Regions from separate parts of the Homo sapiens genome. Here region 2 is linked to region 1. A link means that fine-mapping ties the variant in region 1 to the expression of a gene that starts in the linked region. Tissue or cell type: whole blood. Region 1 holds a variant in brackets; the other region holds the start of a gene. All regions are shown on one strand. Distances are between the middles of the regions.

Region 1 (8,046 bases):
ACCCCGTCTCTACTAAAAATACAAAAAAAAATTAGTCAAGTGTGGTGGCGTGTGCCTGTAATCCCAGCTACTCAGGAGGCTGAGGCAGGGGAATTGCTTGAACCCGGGAGGCAGAGGCTGCAGTGAGCCGAGATCACGCCATTGCACTCCAGCTTGGGCAACAAGAGTGAAACTCCATCTCAAAAAAAAAAAAAAAAGCATTTTAGGGTGGGCACAGTGGTTCACGCCTATAATCCCAGCACTTTGGGAGGCCGAGGTGGGTGCATTACCTGAGGTCAGGAGTTCGAGACCAGCCTGGCCAACATGGTGATACCCTGTGTCTACTAAAAATACAAAAATTAGCCAGGGATGGTGGTGGGTGCCTGTAGTCCAAGCTACTCAGGAGGCTGAGATAGGAGAATCGCTTGAACCTGAGAGGCAGAGGTTGCAGTGAGCCGAGATCACATCACTGCACTCCAGTCTGGGTGACAGAGCGAGACTCTGTCTCAAAAAAAATTTTTTTAATTTAATTTTAAAAAGCATTTTAATGTCCAACTTATCTAGGCTTGTTCCTTTTGATTTTCCAAGTTCTTACTCTGGAGGTGATGATGGTGGTGATAACAATAATTTATATAGTACTCACCATGTTCCAGGTGCTAGTCTAAACTCTTTACATGTATTAACTCACTTAATTCTTAACCAGTCCTATGAGGTATTATCATTCAATGAGGGGACAGAGGCAGAGGTTAAGGAACTTGCCTGAGGTCACACAGGTAGTAAGTCAGGGAGCTGTGATAGGAAACCAGGTAGCCTGGCTGTGGTGTCTGCCTTGGCCTCTCTTATATGACCTCTCATGCCTGCCATAGTTCTAATTTGACTATCATGCCATAAAAAAAGAATTGTCACTCCACACTTACCTGGCTAATAATGATATTTTTGACTGTATGTCCCAACTTCCAGTGCCCCAGTTCATGGCCTAGTACAGCGAGTACCTCCTCATTTTTACATCCTTGTTTCTTATTCTGAATAAAAAAAAATCAAAAATAAATTATTGAGAACCTTTAAAAAGTTTTATCTTTTAACCCAGTAATAGCCCTTCATAGATTTTAACTTAAAGAAATAATCAGTTTTGTTCAAAACTGTTGATTGTCTTAACAAAACATTCCCTGAACCACTGCTCCACATGAGACAGTGGGTTAAGCACTGAAGATAGATAGAATGACGAACAAGATGGACATTCCCAGACTACATAAAGCTCACAGTCTAGACTAACTTAGATTAGGAAAAAAAAAACTGGAAGAAATAGAAATCTTTATAATGGGACAATAGTTAAATAAATCATGATAAAGTTATATGACAGTCACATTATATTACAAAATCATTAGAAATTTTGTTTTCAAAGATTAGGGCCAATTGCAGTGGCTCACGCCTGTAATCTCAACACTTTGGGAAACCGAGGCAGACAGATAACTTGAAGCCAGGAGTTCCAGACTAGCCTGGCCAACATAGCAAAATCCCATCTCTACTAAAAATACAAAATATTGCTGGGCATGGTGGCTCATGCCTGCAATCCCAGCACTTTGAGAGGTCAAGGTGGGTGGATCACGAGGTCAGGAGACCGAGACCAGACTGACCAACATGGTGAAACCCTGTCTCTACCAAAATACAAAAAATTAGCAGGGTATCGTGGTATGCGCCTGTAATTGCAGCTGCTCTGGAGGCTGAGGCAGGAGAATCAGAGGCTGCAGTGAGCTGAGATCACCAGTGAGCTGAGATCACGCCATTGCACTCCAGCCTAGGAGACAGAGCAAGACTCCATCTCAAAATAATAATAATAATAATAATAATAATAAATTAGCCAGGCATGGTGGTGCATGCCTGTAATCCCAGCTACTCAGGAGGCTGAGGCATGAGAACTGCTTGAAACTGGGAGGCGTAGTCTGTAGTGAGCCAAGATCACGCCACTGTACTCCAACCTAGGTGAAAAAGTGAGACTCCATCTCAAAAAAAAAAAAAAAAGGGATGATGTTTTGACATTGGAAAATGATTAGGTGAAGAAAGTAAGACACAAACTAAAAATATATAGTATGATTCTAATTATGAAACAATGTGAATGTGTATATAAAAATATACAAATATAAAAAGTAGACTGAAAGTATATACAAATGTTAACAGTAGTTATTATTATTTATTTTAGATGGAGTTTCACTCTTGTTGCCCAAGCTGGAGTGCAACGGCACGATCTCGGCTCACGGCAACCTCCACCTCCTGGGTTCAAGTGATTCTTGTGCTTCAGCCTCCTGAGTAGCTGGGATTACAGGCGCATGCCACCACACCCGGCTAATTTTTGTATTTTTAGTAGAGACAGGGTTTCACCATGTGAGTCAGGCTGGTCTCGAACTCCTGACTGCAGGTGATCCACCTGCCTTGGCCTCCCAAAGTGCTGGGATTACAGGCATGAGCCGCTGTGTGGGGCCTAGTCCCATTCTCTTACTAAGGAGCAAATAACCAAGGATTTACCAGATATATGAGGTAAGCTGTTAACACAGAAGATCTGATCCACAAAAAAAGCAACATGAAATAAATTATATAAAGAGAAAGTTTAGAAAATTAAGACATTGCACCTAAGAAAAAGTAACGAAATGCTGTAAATTGGAAAATTCAGATAAAAAAATTATTAGAAATCCAAGCTGAAGGCCAGGCATGGTGACTCAAGCCTGTAATGCCAGCACTCTGGGAGGCTGAGGCAGGTGGATCACGAGGTCAGGAGTTTGAGACCAGCCTGGCCAACATGGTGAAACCCCGTCTCTACTAAAGATACCAAAAAAAAAAAAAAAAAAAAAATTAGCTGGGCATGCTGGTGCACACCTGTAATCCCAGCTACTCAGGAGGCTGAGGCAGGAGAATTGCTTGAACCCGGGAGGAGGTTGCAATGAGCTGAGATCGCGCCACTGCACTCCAGCCTGGGCGAGAGGGCAAGACTACATCTCAAAAAAAAAAAAAAAAAGAAAGAAAGTTCAATACAATAAAGGATTGGAAGATGATGAGGGAATTCTAGAAAGCAGAAAGAGATATATTTAAAATGGAAAAGAGGGTTAAAAAGATAGGAGAGTTCAGTATAACAAATCCAGCACTCGAGTAAGAGGAGCCCTGAAAACACAGAATTTAAAAAATGGAGAGGAGAAAAATCAACAAAATAATTTCAGAAAATTTCTTACAACCATAGGACCTCGATTTCCAGAATAAAAGGGCCTAATGCATATATTACAGTGGATGAAAACAGTGTGATGCATATAACATGGTAGATGAAAACAGATCCCCATCAAGGTATGTGAAATTTTAGAACACTGAAACAGAGAAAGATCTAACAAACTTCCAGAAAAGCAAACAAAAACAAAAACAAAAAAAGTAACAAAAGGATCAGCAATTTTTTTTTTTTTTTAAGACAGGGTCTCACTTTGTCACCCAGGCTGGAGTGCAGAGGCAGGATCTCAGTTCACTGTAACCTCCACCTCCCAGGTTCAAGCAACTCTTGTGCCTCAGCCTCCTGAGTACTGGGATTACAGGCGTGCGCTATCATGCCCAACTAATTTTTGTATTTTTTTGTAGAGACAGGGGTTTCGTCATGTTGGCCAGGCTGGTCTCGAACTCCTGGCCTCAAGTTATCTGCCTGTCTTGGCCTTCCAAAGTGCTGGGATTACAGGTATGGGCCACAGTGCCTGACCATAAGCAGATTAACTTTCTAAACTTGCATGATTCTCTAGTGTTATCACTGGGTTATTCTTTCTGGACTTCAGTTTTCCTATTTATAAGATGACTTTAAGATGTCTTCTAATCCCTTCACAGAATTTTATTTCATCTACGTATTTATAACAGGCTAGGTACTTTACTAGAACCTGTTTTTAGTGTCAAAACAGATGCTCAGATGCTAATCATTTTCTGGTACTCTCTACATTTGGGTAGAGAGTACAAGGTATTTCACACATATTATTTCATTTAATCTTCAAAACCCTAAAATGTAGGTATCTTTAGCCTAGTATTTCTCAACCAGGGGAGACTCGGCCCCACCGCTACCTTTAGGGGACATCTGGCAATATTCTGAGACATTTTTGTTGTTACAATTTGTAGAGGTTGTAGGGGAAATGGCCCCTAGTGGGGAGAGACCAGGGATGCTGCTAAACATCCTGTGATGCACAAGATACCTCCCACAACAAAAAAATTATCTGGCTCAAAAAAATAGCGTGGGGCTTGAGAAACCCTACTGGCCTCATCTTTCAGTTAAGAAATCAAAGATTTAGAAAGCTTGGCGGGGTGCGGTGGCACACGCCTATAATCCCAGCACTTTGGGAGGCCAAGGCAGGCGGGTAACTTGAGGCCAGCAGTTCGACCAGCCTGGAAAACATAACAAGACCTCATCTCAAAATAAATAAATACATAAATAAATGAAAGCTTAACTTACTTGCACAGAGTTACACAGACAGTGAGTGAACAGGCATCTAAAATCATCTCTGTATGACACCAAAGGCAATGGCACATTCCATCACACATACAAATACTGATGATCATTTCTGACAGTTTGTATTGTTTCTTATCATTGTCCCCTCTCCCCCATTTAGTCTTGATACTTTAAATTCTGCTAATCAATATCAGTCAATCTTATCCACGAAAAGGATTCAGAAGCAGCTTTCTCAGACTCTCA[T/G]GTCAGATTTGAGAAATGTCTTTTCTTGTGCTCCAGTTACTATATCTAGAATCTAAAGCTTGACAGTAGCAATTCACGTATTGTACTGTGATTGCATGACTATTTCCCCTTTAGACTGTAAGCTTAAGAGGAAGGTATTCCTTTTTATTTTTGTGTACCTAGTGCCAAGTAAAGTCTCTCAGCACAGAGTATACATTTCATAAATGGGTGTTAAACAAATAAAACAGACTAAATTACACAACGTATCCAAGGATACAAAGCTACTAAATGACAGAACCAGGATTCAAATCCAAGTCTCTCCATTGCCAAAGCCTACAATTACTGTCTTAATAAAGCTAAAAATTAGATGTTTATCTTCTCTTTATCTTGCTTGTGGGAATTCTTTGATCATAAACACATAAGAAATTATATATATATATACACACACATATATATATATACACACAAGTTCCTGTTTTAAAGATAGCTTATAATCATATGAATTTTCTTATAAGAGCTTCCAATTTTAATATCCACATTCTATAAAAGCTTGCAAGGTAGTTAGCATGTAATAATAGTGGTGATCTCTCCTAAATACCAGAACTATAAAGGAGCCATGGTTTTCATCTGATAGTCTCCCTGAATTCAACACTCACTGCCTAGAAATTGATGTTATTTTGAGTTGTCACAGGAACTGTGTATAAAAACTAAGGTAGAATCTCTTAGGAAAAAATAACTCACTTTAACTTTAGCTTTTATTTCTTCACTGTTCCCTTCTTCCTCATTGCGGGGTTCCATGCCAGAATCCTCCTGGATGTCTTTGTTTAGTACAGAGTACTCTTCTAGTAGAGTGTCAAACAAAACTATTCGCTTGTTCTTGAAGAAGCCATAAAAATAAGCATTGCTGTGGGAAGAGCGTTTAGATCCTAAGGAAAAGACAGTTCAAAGCATGGAATATAATTAAAAAGTTTGGGGTCCTTTGGAGAGACTCCTAGAAATTGAATTACTGGAAAGGACATTAACATTTTCAAATCATTTAATATGTGAAGAAAAATCATATCAACATAATTCACCACCAGCAGTGGAGAGTGTCTGTTTTTTGCCAATAAATGTGCTCATCACAGCTTTATAGCAGTAAGTAAATAAGTAAAGCCTAAACATCCAACAGTTACAAATGATTCAATTATAGTAAAACTATGAAATGGAATTTTAAGCTGCCAGAAAAAAATTATACTTCCAAAGAATTTTAACAAGAAAAAGCTCACCAATATATTGTGAAGGATACAAAACTTCACGTATATCAGGTTCCATTATCGTCAAGAAAAAATGTGCATGTATTAGGTTGGTGCAAAAGTAATTGCGGTTTTTGCATTGTTGAAATTTGCTGTTTGATATTGGAATACATTCTTAAATAAATATGGTTATGTTATACATCATTTTAATGCACATTTCTCACTTTATGTTTTTTGCTAATGACATTACTTGCTGTTTATTTTATATTTATTTTAGATAAGGGAAATTATATTAGACAAAAAGCAAATTCAACTGGGTGCAGTGGCTCATGCCTGTAATCCCAGCACTTTGGGAGGCTGAGGCAGGCGGATCACTTGAAGTCAGGAGTTCGTGACCAGCCTGGCCAACATGGTGAAACCCTGTCTCTACCAAAAATACAAAAAATTAGCCGGGCATGGTGGCGCACACCTGTCATCCCAGCTACACGTGGGGCTGAGGCATGAGAACTGCTTGAACCCAGGAGACGGAGGTTGCAGTGAGCAGAGATGTCGCCACTGCACTCCAGCCTAGGCAACAGACGGAGACTCTGTCTCACAAAGAAAGAAAAAAAAAAAAGCAAATTCAAGCAATTTTCTTCTTTGAGTTCAAAATGGGTCGTAAAGCAGCAGAGACAACTCGCAACATCAACAACGCATTTGGCCCAGGAACTGCTAACGAACGTACAGCGCAGTGGTGGTTCAAGAAGTTTGCAAAGGAGATGAGAGCCTTGAAGATGAGGAGCGTAGTGGCAGGCCATCGGAAGTTGACAATGACCAATGGAGAGCAATCATCGGAGCTGATCCCCTTACAACTACACAAGAAGTTGCCGAAGAACTCAATGTCGACCATTCTACGGTCGTTTGGCATTTGAAGCAAACTGGAAAGGTGAAAAAGCCTGATAAGTGGGTGCTTCATGAGCTAAGCGAAAATAAAAATTAAAAAAAATCATTGTTTTGAAGTGTCGTCTTCTCTTATTTTACACAACAAACCATTTCTCTATCAGACTGTGACGTGAGACGAAACATGGATTTTATAGAACAACGGGCGATGACCAGCTCAGTGGGTGGACACAGAAGAAGCTCCAAAGCACTTCCCAAAGCCAAACTTGCACCAAAAAAAGGTCATGGTCACTGTTTGGTGGTCTGCTGCCAGTCTGATCCACTATAGCTTTCTGAATCCTGGCAAAACCATTACATCTGAGAAGTATGCACAGCAAATCGATGAGATGCACAGAAAATTGCAACGCCTGCAACCAGCACTGGGCAACAGAAAGGGCCCAATTCTTCTCCAAGACAACACCCAACCGAACATCGCAAAATCAATCCTTCAAAAGTTGAACAAATTGGGCTATGAAGTTTTGCCTGATCTGCCACATTCACCTGACCTCTTGCCAACTGACTACCACTTATTCAAGCATCTCAACAACTTTTTAAAGAGAAAACGTTTTCACAACTAGCTGGATGCAGAAAATGCTTTCCAAGAGTTTGCCAAATCCCGAAGCACAGAGTTTTACCCTACAGAAATAAGCAAACGTATTTCTTGTTGGCAAAAATGTGTTGATTGTAATGGTTCTTCTTTTGATTAATAAAGATGTGTTTGAGCCTAGTTATAAGGATTCAAAATTCATGGTCTGAAACTGCAATTACTTTTGCACCAACCTAACAAATATTAACAGAAAAGCATAAGCCCATGCCTATTAGGAAACATACCAAAATACTGAAATGTTTATCACTAAATTCTAAAATTATAGATTTTTGTTTCCTTTCTTTTCCCAAAGACTTTTAAAATCAGCATACCTACTTCTATAATTAAAGCAATTTTTATAAAGACTGGAAGAAGACATACCTTTTTTTCTTTTGAGACAGGGTCTCTCTGTCGTCTAGGCTGCAATGCAATGGCATAATCATGGCTCACTGCAGCCTTGACCTCCTGAGCTCAATCAATCCTCCTGACTCATCCTCCTGAGTAGCTAGGACTACAGACACATACCACCATGCCCGGCTAATTTTTTGTAGAGACAGGGTCTTGCTATGTTGCCCAGGCTGGTCTCTAACTCCTGGGCTCAAGCAATTCTCCTGCCTTGGCATCCCAAAGTGCTGGGATTACAGGTGTGAATC
Region 2 (8,046 bases), 25 kb after region 1:
ACTCCAGCCTGGGCGACAGAGCAAGACACTGCTCAAAAACAAAAACAAAACAAAACAAAAAAAGCAACAAAAAAACCCCACATTATTTCATTCAATAAATAGGAACTATATGCTGATTACATGCCAGGCACTAGGTATAAAATGATGAACAAGACTTAACTATTTCTTTAAGGAACTACCAGTCTGCCAATTAAACAGTCAAATCAGGCCAGGTACAGTGTGGCTCATGCCTATAATCCCAGCACTCTGAGACGGTATGGTGGCATGCAACTGTAGTCCCAACTACTCGGGAGGCTGAGGTGGGAGGATCATTTGCGCCTAGGAAGCAGAGGTTGCAGTGAGCCAAGATCACGCCACTGTACTTCAGCCTGGGTGACAGAGCAAGACTGTGCCAGAAGAAAAAAAAAAAAATCCAGGCAAATTCAACATAATGAGATAAGTACTCTGACAGGAATAATGATAGAATGCTACCCTATCCACATTCGTCAGGCAGGGAGTTTCAAATGGTTGCTTAGAAGACATGACATCTCAGCTGGATCCTAATGGAAGAGGATCTTTTTCCTACCTGGCTTCAGGGTAATAGTTCCCATATTCTATAGTTTTCAACTGACTAAGCAGTTATGTTTCTGTCTTTTTTGCTCCACAGCCGTTACTATCAATAACAAAGGTTAAGAAAGCATTCTGGGACTTGTAAGTGTGGTACCCTCTTTTGTGTTACAAAAATATGAAAATGAAAACAACCAGACAGACTGTCTCTCCAAGAAGTAAATTACTCACAGTGCCTTCAGTCTCTGAATAGAGTCCTGACCAGAAGCTGAAAGTGCTTTTATCCAGTTGATAGAGTCGAGATTTCTCAAATGTTTCAGAATCCATGATCTGTCCTAACTCCGGTGGTACATGAGTTGTTGTTTTATATATCCTTCTCTGAAATATTTTAAAGAAAACACTTTAGTGAAATAGTTGTTTATTACAATAGTCATTTATGATCAAACATCGAATGGTTTATAGCTTGCCACTTATATCTGTTGAATTTGCTTTATACCTACACAAATATTGCACTTGATCAAGTACATGAAACGACTGATGCAGGAAAATAAAAGCAGAACAAGAGAACCTGAGGTGACCTGACTGGTAAAACTATAATCAGGGTTGTCATCACACTTCAGTTTGTATATGTAAACCAAAGCTGTTAACATCACAACTTTGTTACATGTACTACTCATTCTGGGTATTACATACCTCCTATAATACGGAAAACAAATTCATGCAAAGGAGAAGCACACATGCTAACTGTGAGTATGAACAGATACTGAGGCTGCTCATTAAATTTGGTCCTAAATGCCAGAAACTTGAGGATCACCAGATGGAAACATATCAGGTCTGTGAGAAAAGACCAATTTTCAGCCGGGCACGGTGGGTCACGCCTGTAATCCCAGCAGTTTGGAAGACAGGGGCAGAAGGATTCCTTGAGCCCAGGAGTTCAAGACTGGCCTGAGCAATGTGGTGAAATCCCGTCTCTACAAAAAATACAAAAATTAGCAGAGTGTGGTGGTATGCACCTGTGGTCCCAGCTATTTGGGGGGCTGAGGTGGGAGGATCACTTGAGCCTGGGAGGCAGAGGTTGCAGTAAGCCCATATTGTGCCACAGCACTACACCCTGGGTGACAGAGAATCTATCTCCTTAAAAAAAAAAAAAAAAAAAAAAAAGGAGAAAGATCAACTATCTCATTATACTAAATTATAAAAGGTAAGGGTAATTTCAGTCCAGGAAATGTAATACAGAGAATGGATACCAAACAAAATAATGGGCCACTACAACATGCTTTCCCTATATATTGTTGTGTGCCAATAAAAGCTGAGGGGAGATCGAGCACGGTGGCTCATGCCTGTAATCCCAGCCCTTTGGGAGGTGGAGGCGGCAAGATGACTTGAGTCCAGGAACTCCAGACCACCCCGGGCAACATCTCTACAAAAAAATCAAACAATTAGCCAGGCACAGTGATCCGCACCTGTGGTCCTAGCAACTCAGAAGGCTGAGGTGGAGGTGGAGGGGTCGTTTGAGCCCACGAGTTCGAGGCTGCCTTGAGCTATGATGATGCTACTGTGCTCCAGTCTGGGTGGCAGAGTGAGCCCCTGTCTCTAAATACAATAAATATTCTATCCTGGCCAAGATGGTGAAACCCCGTCTCTACTAAAAATACTAAAATTAGCTGGGCGTGGTGGCACGTGCCTGTAATCCTAGCTACTCGGGATGCTGAGGCAGGAGAATCATTTGAACATCCCTCCCTCTGCGCGCTGCTGGCAGTGTCACAGACACACTCTTCCCCTTGCAGACTCTCCCTCGTCCCTCCTAGTTTCTTGCAGTGAGCCGAGATAACGCCACTGTACTCCAGCCTGGTGACAGAGCTAGACTCTAAAATTAAATAAATAAATAAAGATTAAAAATAAATAAATAAAAGTTCAGATCTCTAAACCATGGTTATCTCAGGTAAATTGTTAACTTTCACTTTTTATTTTACCATTTTAATATTTAAACTAAAATAATGTTGATTTTATGAAAAACGAGAAATATATTTCATTTAATTTCATTTATTTATTTATTTTGAGATTGAGTTTCACTCTTGTCGCCCAGGCTGGAGTGCAGTGGCACAATCTCAGCTCACTGCAACCTCCGCCTACTGGGTTCAAATGATTCTCCTGCCTCAGCCTCCCAAGTAGCTGGGACTACAGGTGCGCGCCACCACACCCGGCTAATTTTTCTATTTTTAGTAGAGACGGGTTTTCGCCACGTTGGTCAGGCTGGTCTCGAACTCCTGACCCCAGGTGATCCGCCCGCCTCGGCCTCCCAAAGTGCTGGGATTACAGGCATGAGACACCACGCCGGGCCCGATAAGTTTTTTGTTTGTTTGTTTGTTTTTTCAAGCAGAAACAATATATGCACTTTAAGGAGAAACAAGAGTGCAAGTTCTTGGAAGGACTGCAAAATCCTATGGTTAGGCATGATTACATAAATGTCATGAGGAAGTTGGGTGTCTAAATCCTTTTAAAGGCTTATTCCAAAGATAAAGGAGGCCAAGTCTGGGCCCAAGGATCCCAAGGAAGCTGCAGGGAGGGCACAAGAGCCCAAGCCTTCCTCCAGGCCCTAAAGGGATTGGGTCCCATGATAACGTTACAGAAAACTTCCTTGACGCACCAAGACCCTCCTCAAAGCCACAGTCCGCCATCGGGCCAAGTTACGAGACTCAGCAGGGACCACAAAGACGAGACTGGCGCGGGGACCGAAGCAATCAAGAGTCTCAGGGTCGAAGCCAAGGCTACTCCAGGGCTGGCCGGGTATGGGGGTCAGGTTGGACCCTGTCTAGGCTCACCTGCCGCTGTGCTAGGAAGGTCTCCCAAAGATACACTGTCCAGGAAAAGAGCAGCACGGCCCCGAAGATACGCTTCTCGGCCGGCATCTCCCACAAAGCGTCCAGCGATGCCCACATCCCCATGGCCACCCGGTTCCGCCGGCTCCTTCAGCGTGCACCGGTGCCACACCGACACTCGTCCCTTCAGAGCGTCCCCGCGGTGTCACAGCAATATCCGTTCTTTCCGAGGGCCCCTACGCCGATACCCGCCCCCATCCCTCCCTCTGCGCGCTGCTGGCAGTGTCACAGACACACTCTTCCCCTTGCAGACTCTCCCTAGTCCCTCCTAGTTTCTACAGGAAAAGCCCCAGCCCCACCTTCCTCACTTCCGGCCCAAAGAGGGCGGGGACCCAAACGCCGAGTTCCGGGCCCGGCTGAGCTGTGTTGCATCAACATTCTTCCCCCACGTCTTGACGCTGGGTTCCGGCCTAGGGTTCTGGCTTTCCTCCTGGGCTAGTGAACGCGGCGAAGTCCTCCTCTTTCTAATCTCCAGAGCCGCAGTTCCATCCTCTGGGTCAGCGGCTTACCCTGACTGGGCTGCGGTATCTGCCTTCCTTCCCCCAACAAGGCGACAGGTAGTCGGGGCTGGGGCCGGAACTGACTGAGTGGGCCGCAACTGACTGAGTGGGCCGCGGCTCCCGCCTGAGGAGGCTAGGAAGGACTGAACAGCAGCCGACTTCCCAGGCTCTAAAAATCGTGCCTCTGAGTTAGAGCTACCTCAAAAGCAAGACCAAGCATGAGAAATGGAGTCTTTTGGCCAGTATTGGGGTGTTCGGAATTCAAGCGTATGAGAGAGTGGACGGTAGCGTTGAGAATTTTCATTTGAAGATCTCGTCTTAACCACCCCAAGTGTAGTCAGAGGCGGCGTTTTCCCTGCGAGAGTGCCCTGGAACAAAGCAAGGATAGCGTGGGTTAGACATACCTGAAATGAAAGCGTCTTACTTTATCTAGGTACATATTTGCGTCAGTAAGGCGCAACGCCATTTCTCTCTTGGAATTCAGAAGTGAAATATGGTGACTGGGACGCCTGTACATTGCTTTGACTTAAAAATTGAAGTCCATTATTCTGACCGAAAGTTAATCTGATGATTAATTGGTTAAACATACTATCGTTGCTAATTAGCATAATTATTATTTACAATAAAGTGAGCTAAATAGCTACAACTAAAATATATTTAAATTACTGTGATATTGTGATGCTAAAGATGTGTTGAAATTAATATCTTGAATTTCTCAACCCTGCCTAAATGCCTCTGAGAGTAATTAGTATAATTAAAAGTCACTAGAGAAAGTGAATGACTCTAATAACAGGATAACAAATTCTTTTCAAGTCAGATGGTTTCCAGTTCTTTGCTTTCAACAAAATTAATGGTGGCCCATGAATTGTCAGCTGATGAAGGAACACTATTTGGTTTTTGGCATGCAACTCGGAAAGAAACCAAACGATTGATTGACATGCTTACAACAAAACTACTAGCATTCTCACCTATTTATGTAAAACCATTTCTCAGCACTTGTATCTGTGAAAACAACAGAATTGAAAATGAACCCTGTTAATCTACCAGTAGGAACTATTCATCCAGATAAATGAATTAATTGGTGGGTCAGCCCCATCTATCTCACTAAGAGATGTGTTCCCAATAGAATTTCACCTTTTATAACTGTGTGTTATCAATATTTGCAATCGTGTCATTTTGATCCATTATATACTAAAGATGATTGTGATGATTACTCACTTCAGAAGAATTCCAGCGTAGAGCCATAAAGTTACACGAAATTTTTTAAGGTTTACTACATATGTCATATTTTTATTGCGAAGAAGTGATCAAGAAAAGGTTGTTCAAACATCAAAGTACTATATTTGAATAACATTTTTTGTTAGAGTACAATCTAAATATGTTAGAGATAATAAAAGAACAATGTTGAAGAGCTCATTAGTGTATGTTTTAATGCATAATGGTGGTTATTCAGTTGTTATGTAGATTCTCTTGGATACATTATAAAGAGTGATTTAACAGTTTTATCTTAAAATGTCAGTATTTACAATTTGCAAGAATTTACATCCATTGCAACTATTTGAATTTATGATGGAACCAGTTAGATACCAACTTAAATATATAAGGGGTAAACACTTTTTCAAAATTTTCTCTCCCTCAGGCCATCATTGCTATGCCCTCTTCACTCTTGACTTCAGCTGTCTGTGAGTCCAAAGCCTCACAGGAGCTTCTACCACCCAAGCTTTGTGGCTAAGGGCACAGGTTTAGAGTCAAGCTGCTTGATTGCCAGCCACGGCCGCACCATGTATTAGCACGTTCTTTAATCTGTGCATCAGATCCTCATCAGTAAAATGAGAATAACATAGTATGTACTTACTTTCTCATACTGTTAGGATCAAATGAGAAAATTCATGTAAAGCTCCTAGCAATGTAGATGGCCCTGAGTGCCCAATAAAGGTTAGCTACTGCTTGGGAGAGGGGCATCATAGCATTGATCTGTCACCATGTGTCTGAAGAGATAGGAGAGTAGGAGGCCGAGGTGTCAAAAAGCCAAGACTGACTGGAATTCATTCATTCAATAAATACTGAATGTCTGCGAAATGCCAGACGCATTTCCAGGTGCCAGGGATATAGCAGTGAACCAAAGCCCCTCTCCTGGAGCTTACATTCTTAGCTGGGGTGGATGCAGTGTTTGATAAATAATAAGCAAATATTTAATAGTAAAAGTGGAAGTGGTGATAAGTGCTATGAAGAAAAAGCAGCAAAAAGGCAATACAGCATGTTGGTGTGAGGGATGCTGCTTTACATAAGTTGGTCAAGGAAGCCTTCTCAGATTAACTGGCATTTGAGTCCCCCAAAAAAAGTAAGAGAACAAGCTGTGTGGATATCTGAGGAAATTGCCAGTCAGAGTGAAGAGCAAGTGCAAAGGCCCTGAGATTGGCCAATGCTTATCATATCTGAGGAATGGCAAGAGGCTGTGGAAAGAGTAAGGAAGAGGGGGAGTGCAGATCCATGCCATCATGCAGTCTTTTAGTTAAAAGACTTTTACTTAGAATGAAAGAATAAGCCATTGCAGGATTTTGAGCAGAGCATTGCAGAGTTTTGAGCAGACAATCCTTCTCATTACAACGTGGAGAATAAATTTAATGGGGAATGGAAGGAGGGAGTGCAGTTAGGAGGCCATTTCAAGAATCCAGGTGATTTAGCAGTTGCCAAGGATATCAGAAAAAAAGAAAAAAGAATCCAGGTGAGAGATGGTAGTGCAGACTAATGTGGTGGCAGTGGAGAACTAGTGAATTATGGAAAGTGAATAATCACTTGTTTCTCTTTTCAGAAAGACAGTACTAATAGAAGGGCTGGCCTGTGTGGAGTCTAAAAATGGGAACCTCAAAACAGGCTGTTGGCAGGATTTTGCTAAAGGAGAAAGACTGGCAGGGTGTGCTGGCTCACACCTGTAATCTCAGTTCTTTGGGAGGCCAAGGTGGGATAATTGCTTGAGTGCAGGAGTTCGAGACCAGCCTAGGCAACACAGTGAGACTTCATCTCTATAAAAATAAATAAAATGACTGAATTTGAAAGATAAAGATTATTATCCCTAGAGTGATAGACATTGCTGTAGGGTAGTCCATCTACCCTGTCTAACCTAAATCATAGAGTTGCTCTCAAGCTTTTTCCCTATCTTGCCTTGATTCTCTGCTTACCAAGCATTCAAGGTCCCTTAATTGAAACTCTGGCCATAAGTGCTCTGGCCTCAAGAAAAGAATGATCCCCCTTGGCTGGGCGCAGTGGCTTACGCCCGTAATCCTAGCATTTTGGGAGGCCGAGGTGGGTGGATCACTTGAGGCCAGGAGTTTGAAACCAGCCTGGCCAACATGGCGAAACCCCATCTCTACTAAAAATACAAAAAAAAAAACAAAAGACAAAAAACCAGGCATGGTGGTGGACGCGTATAATCTGGAGGCTGAGGCAGGAGAATCGCTTGAACCCGGAAGGCGGAGGTTGCAGTGAGCGGAGATCACACCACTGCACTCCAGCCTGGGTACCCTTACAAGAGCAGCTGTTATTTCTTTTGCATCTAGCTCATTCTACTTTCTAGCTCATACGTTCTGTCTCTCATATAGGCTACTAATTCTGTGTTACTCCCTGTTAAAAAAGAACAAAAACAAAAACCCTGTAATGGTCCATTTATGATAGTATAAAGCCCAACCTATATATGGTATATATGGTATGACCTTCGAGGTCCTTCATTACCTGACATCAGTCTACTCTTCAAAACTCTTCTTTTTTGGCCGGGCGCGGTGGCTCACGGCTGTAATTCCAGCACTTTGGGAGGCCGAGGCGGGTGGATCATGAGGTCAGGAGATCGAGACCATCCTGGCTAACACGGTGAAACCCTGTCTCTACTAAAAATACAAAAAATTAGCCAGGCGTGGTGGCGGGTGCCTGTAGTCCCAGCTACTTGGGAGGCTGAGGCAGGAGAATGGCATGAACCCGGGAGGCTGAAGTTGCAGCGAGACAAGATTGCGCCACTGCACTCCAGCCTGGGTAACAGAGCGAGACTCCGTCTCAAAAAATATACATATATATATATCCTTCTGGGCCGGGCGCAGTGGCTCATGCCTGTAATCCCAGCACTCCGGCAG

Evidence for each region. PIP is the estimated chance that this variant, and not a neighbour inherited with it, causes the effect.
Region 2: it holds the start of ZMPSTE24, and the variant in region 1 is the best candidate, but not a certain one, in a credible set for the expression of ZMPSTE24 in whole blood (TOPMed, PIP 0.53).

Annotation. Positions count from the first base shown.
Region 1 is chr1:40,278,880-40,286,925 of GRCh38, reverse strand. ZMPSTE24 (zinc metallopeptidase STE24) reads right to left here. Exons shown (of 10, transcript NM_005857.5): 7 at 5,399-5,583; 8 at 897-1,001. Among named protein-coding and RNA genes, the nearest start is that of ZMPSTE24, 25 kb to the right of the region's middle. The variant T/G (reference allele first, on the strand shown) is at 4,679.
Region 2 is chr1:40,253,717-40,261,762 of GRCh38, reverse strand. ZMPSTE24 (zinc metallopeptidase STE24) reads right to left here and starts at 3,527. Exons shown (of 10, transcript NM_005857.5): 1 at 3,369-3,527; 2 at 778-924. The coding sequence starts at 3,491. RefSeq lists enhancers at 3,117-3,216, 3,307-3,586, 3,667-3,936, 4,167-4,296.